Linked DNA regions of Homo sapiens: region 1 is linked to region 2. A link means that fine-mapping ties the variant in region 2 to the expression of a gene that starts in the linked region. Tissue or cell type: regulatory T cells. Region 2 holds a variant in brackets; the other region holds the start of a gene. All regions are shown on one strand. Distances are between the middles of the regions.

Region 1 (2,764 bases), 52 kb before region 2:
TGCTTCATTAGAGGGTCTCCCACCCTCGCGGCCCCAGCAAGCATCATCTGGAAAGCTTGTTAAAGCACACGCTGCTGGGCCCCACCCCCAGAGTTTCTGGTTCAGTAGGGCTAAAGTGGGACTGGAAAATTCGCATCTCTAACAAGTTCGCAGGTGCTACTGCTTCCAGCGGGCATACTTGGAGAACCACCAGCTGCACTGTTCTCCTTCCCGTTCCTCAACAAGGCAGGCAGGATCTTGCTTAGCAGTCTCCACGCTGCTCTTCCCTCTGCCCTAGGCATTCTTTGCATTACTCAAAGCCCCTGTTATTCCATCTCTTTAACTCATGCCTTTTGAGAGGCCTTCTCTGACCACTCTTTCTAAAATCTCTTTCCCTCTCCTCATCCTCATTTATGTTTCTTCATGGTAAGCATCACTTACTGTTTCCGTCACCCCGTCTAGATGGACAGCTCCACAAGCAGAAAGACTTGGTTTTGCTGTCACAGCCGCAGCACTAAAACCTTGCTTAGCAGGTGCTCACTTCACTTGTCCAAGGAATGGCTAGCATACTGAGGAGGGAGAGCCTGCTTCCTGCCTGGGACACTGGACAGGCAAATCACTTCTTCTTGCCTCAGTGCCACCCTTTGTAAGGACACTGGTTGGTTATGCCTACCCTTCCCATCTCCCTGGGTACAGGCACAAATGAAAAGAATAACGTGTACACGCCCGCGAAGCAGAGCAGCAAGTGGATACCGAGCATTATTACGCCGTGCGTTCGGCCGCCCTTTTTCTGCACGGAGAACCCCCTCCGCTCCCATTTTCCAGCGCCCCCGTCCCGGCGATCCAGAGACCCGCTGTGGGCGGCCGCCGCCCGCGTCCCGGCCTGCGGGCCAGCGTCTGGGCACGCCCGCCCCGCACCCGGCTGGCGCCCGCCCGCCCGCCTCCAGAAGCAGAAGCGGCAGCGGCAGCGGCAGCAGCAGCAGCAGGAGGAAGGGGAGGCGCCGAGGGAGGGGTACTCGGCCGCCGCGGGAGGCCGCATCGCAGTCCCGTCACAGCGTCGGCGCCGGCCGGGGCCGAACCCGGAAGTGGCCGAGCCCGCGCGCCCGCCGGTCCCGTCGCCGCCGCCCCGCACTCGGGCGAGCGCGGGAGCCGCGCAGTAGACGGAGCGCGCCCGGCCGAGCGGGCCATGGCCGCGGGGGCCGCCGCCGCAGGTGGTGGCGCGCGGTGAGGAGAGCGCGGCGCCCCCTCCGGGGCGGATGGAACGCGGCTCGGCGGGCGGGCAGTGCCGGCGTCCGCGGCTGGAATGGTGCTGGCTGTGTTGGTCGGTGCCTGCGTTCTGAAGCCCGAGAGGAGCCACAATGGAGACGCCGCCGCTGCCTCCCGCGTGAGTGAGCGGGCGGGCGGGCTGCGCCGCTGCGGATAAGCGCGCCGCTGCGGCGCGTGTCGCCGGCCGCGGGCGCAGCTCTGGGGACAGCCGCCGGGGCCGGCGGGAGGTGGGAGATGCGGGGCGTGACGAGGCGCTGTGCCCGCAGTCCTGAGCGGACGCGGACGGAAACTCAGCCTGGCCAGGCGGTGACTTAAAACGCTGCCCAGGATTTCTGGGGAAGGGTCTTCCCCATCTCGGGCGGATAGAAGATTCGGGGTGGGGCTGTGCATGGGTGACCCTGCAGGTCCTGTGTGTACCTCCCTGAAATGCATGGGCACCTGGTGCCGAGTTTGCCTACCCCTTTATAAGAGATCAGGCTAGGATGCACTGAGTCCGTTGAAAAAAGGAAACTGGAAAGTACCAGTCACCCGCTGTCTAAATGAATTGATCTTAGGTTGCTTGATTCCCCGAATTTCTAACAAAATTAATATCTGAGGAGCTTTTGCATCACTCTAAATGAGCGGCGGCCGTTCAGGGCATGTGACCTCTTTTACCTGGCACTGCAGAACGTTTTATCCAGAAATCAGCATCTTCTGTTTCGTTCGTACCTCGGGCAAATTAGTAGCGTATCGACCTGCCAGGCACAGGTGTCTTTTTTCTTTGGTACCCAAGTACATTCAAGATCACTGGCAACAGAATTACTTTCTAGAAATAATAGCTGAAACATTATGTAGAAGACATTATTGCATTATTCAGAACAAGGGTTTTTTTTTTAAATTTTAGTTTTTAGTTTTAAAAACATCTTGGTAAAAGTGAACTGTAAATACCCAGGAGTTTCGAAAATTTCAATTTTGGTTCCCTCTTCTCTTAGGAAGGAACAAGAGTCCTTTGAATCTGACTTTTCAAATCGCAGACAAACCTCATCCTGAAGAATGGTTTACCTTTTCATGAGAGCTTATTCATGGAGGCTTGTCGTTCTCCGGTCAAATTTGGCAAGCTTCACTCCATGCCGATTGTACCGCACCAGTCTCTTGTGGTTATTTGGCAGAATTCCAGCCAAAATAAGGATACTTGGCTTGGGTTGAATAATTTTTTGATGTTCAGCCCTTTTAGGAGAGCTAATGGGATTCTGGAACGACAGTTTCTAAAAGTGCGTTTCAGAATTTTTAGCTTGAGTGGAACAGGTCGTGGAAATCTAGGGGGTAGATAAGACTCTTGAATTGGCCTTCCTGGGCTGACAGAAGCAGGGGCTTAGTCACCTCTCGATAGCTGTGGCTTTGAGGGCTCTGAGATTTGGTCATGTTCTTCAGCAGGCTGGAGGAAGGCACCTGAACCCCTAGGAAATATGATGGTGGATGGTTCACATCAGCAGCATGAGCACACGGGGGTCTGCCCAGGCTCAGAAGCACTTAAAGCAGG
Region 2 (2,764 bases):
CTGATCTCCTAAATCAGGGTTTTCCAAATTCTGATCACTTGTAATCATTTGTGGGCCAGCTTCAGGATTTTGCTATATTCTACAAGTGCTGATGCTATTAAATTTTTAATGTTTTTCTCTACAGTGAGTCAATTTTTGCTTAAATAAGTTTACTTGAGAAGGAATGTTTATATTATTGTATTATTGAAATAAATGGAAAATAACTTAAAAAAATGTATTTCTAACTATGAACCTATATTCTTTTTTTTTTTTCTTTGAGATGGAGTCTCACTGTGTCACCCAGGCTGGAGTACAGTGGTCCGATCTTGGCTCACTGCAACCTCCGCCTCCTGGGTTCAAGCAATTCTCCTTCCTCAGCCTCTCAAGTAGCTGGGATTACAGGTGTGCACCACCATGCCCAGCTAATTTTTGTATTTTTAGTAGAAACGAGGTTTTGCTATGTTGGCCAGGCTGGTCTTGAACTCCTACTCCTGACCTCAAATGCTCTGCCCACCTTAGCCTCCCAAAGTGCTGGGATTACAGGTGTGAGCCACCAAGCCTGCCCTGAACCTATATTCTTAACTATTAATGCAAGAAGTTTATCTGTATGTCATCTAAAATCATTATGCACATTTTGGTTAGTACCGCTCTCATAGCAGGCTTGGCCTGTCCCATACCAGGTGTGTGACCTTTAGCAAGTTACCCAACTTCTCCTACCCTCTGTATTCGCTTGTGTATGATGGAGATAATGAGATATTATTGTCTGGCAAGTGCTTAGCACAGTGCCTGATGTAGTAATTACTCAGTAAATGGAAGTAACTGCAATAATGCATTGTTGAAGTGGTTGTTGTCTTTATTATTCTTCATGAAAAGGACAGTGTTGGAGATTTAGAAATTATACAAATACTTCCATTCTGCACCTAAATTTGGGGTTGAAGGTATTAGAACAGTAGACCAAAGAGCTGACCAATTTGATTATATCCCTAGCTTTCCATGACTCGCTGTATGACTTGGTCAAGCCGTTTAACCCCTCGAGGGTGTGGTTTCTTCATCACACAAATTAGAAGGTTTGATTTGATTTGATCTCAAAACTTTCAGCTTGCAGGGTGACAGCTGTTTGAGTGGTTTTGATCATGGGATGTGGTTCATCTGAAGTCAGAGCATTTTAAATTTTGTTTTAAGTGGCTGTTTGGCACCCAAAA[T/A]AAGCTAGGAGTTGATGTGGCCCCAGCTGTTTTCCTGTTTTCATTATCAGTGACTGATGGTCACCAGGCGTCATGTTAGCAAGCTGGGTCAATTAGTAATTGCTTTTGAAGCTGTATATAATTAATTACATAATTATGAGCTATTGAAGTTTAGTCCTAGTAAAACTACATCATAAAACCAAGGCAATTTCAAAAGATTTACTGACAAAAGAAAAATATGAACAAACTTTTTGTACATTTGACTTACATTTATTTTATGTTTAGCATATATTTGTCAAGCATGTAACCACGTTTCACTGTCATCAAAAAAAATTATATGTGAATATAATCTAGCCACATGGACCACTGTTGAAATAACTTTATATTTCTACCTAGATGACTTGTTATGCCCCTTCCAGATAGGAGAATCTACAATTTTATGAATTTCGGTCTCCTAATACGGTAGATCTGAACTTGGTAATGATTAAGTTGAAATCAATAAAGCAAAATGAAATTTTAAAAGCCTGCTACACACACATATATGTGTGTGTGTGGGGGGGGTGTATATGTTAGCATAATATACCAACGACTAATTTTTTTTTCACTCAGGAATATATTTTAGAAATTATCTCATTTATTAGTTTCCTCTTTCGTTTGAATGACTGCAATTGAATGGATGATTCCAATTATTTGATCAGTCTCCTTATGATGGACATTAAAGGCTTTTTTCTAACTTCTATTAGCCACAATAATGCTGTAATGAATATCTTGTGCATGTGAGATTTTGTGCATATGTTAGCATATCTATAGGTTAAATTGCTGGGTCAGAGGACATGTGCATTTGTAATTTTGAATTTGAAATAAACAAATTGTTCTTCATGGAGGTTGGACCAATATGTGCTCCCACCAACAATGTGTAAGTGAGCCTGTTTCCTGCCCAACCACTTTTTCCTCATCGTTCTGTGTGACCAAACAATTTAAGTATTATACTGTTTTCTCTAGGAAAATGCTAATTAGAGGAGTGATCATACTATTTGTGCAGATTTCACAGAGATTGAATTTTACACTGAAGACCACTTTCTAAACTATATGTAGAAATTTAATTTGCTGAATTAAATGGCTGTACTATTAAGCATCTTGGAACGCACTTTATGTTGCTTCAGAGCGCAATTACACTGGCATGGAAAAACCTGCAATTTGAAAATTATCAACAAATTAAAGCCTTCTGTGGATATTCATTCTCATAACATAATGAAACCTACTATACATATCATGCAAAAAGTTTGGCTGTAACGTTATTTATACTTTATTTTCTATTTTTATTTTTATTTTTTGAGACGGAGTCTCTCTCTGTCACCCAGGCTGGAGTGCGGTGGTGTGATCTCGGCTCATTGCAACCTCTGCCTCCAGGGTTCAAGTGATGCTCCTTCCTCAGCCTCCTGAGTAGCTGAGACTACAGGTGTGTGCCACTACACCCAGCTAATTTTTGTATTTTGAGTAGATTGGGCTTTCACCATGTTGGCCAGGTGGTCTCAAACTCCTGACCTCAAGTGATCCACCTGCCTCGGCCTCCTAAAGTGCTGGGATTACAGGCGTGAGCCACC

Direction of the effects. Positions count from the first base shown, and alleles are read on the strand shown. Sizes are in standard deviations (SD) of each study's normalised expression.
As copies of T replace A in region 2, the expression in regulatory T cells of the gene that starts at base 1,022 in region 1 goes down (large effect, 1.1 SD a copy in Schmiedel 2018).

The links. PIP is the estimated chance that this variant, and not a neighbour inherited with it, causes the effect.
Region 1: KLHL2 starts here. The variant in region 2 is fine-mapped to the expression of KLHL2 in regulatory T cells (Schmiedel 2018, PIP 0.95).

Annotation. Positions count from the first base shown.
Region 1 is chr4:165,206,540-165,209,303 of GRCh38, forward strand. KLHL2 (kelch like family member 2) reads left to right here and starts at 1,022. Exons shown (of 15, transcript NM_007246.4): 1 at 1,022-1,363. The coding sequence starts at 1,338. RefSeq lists an enhancer at 643-1,143 and a silencer at 674-1,323.
Region 2 is chr4:165,258,865-165,261,628 of GRCh38, forward strand. The region is part of intron 4 of KLHL2 (kelch like family member 2); the gene reads left to right. Among named protein-coding and RNA genes, the nearest start is that of GK3, 19 kb to the right of the region's middle. The variant T/A (reference allele first, on the strand shown) is at 1,182.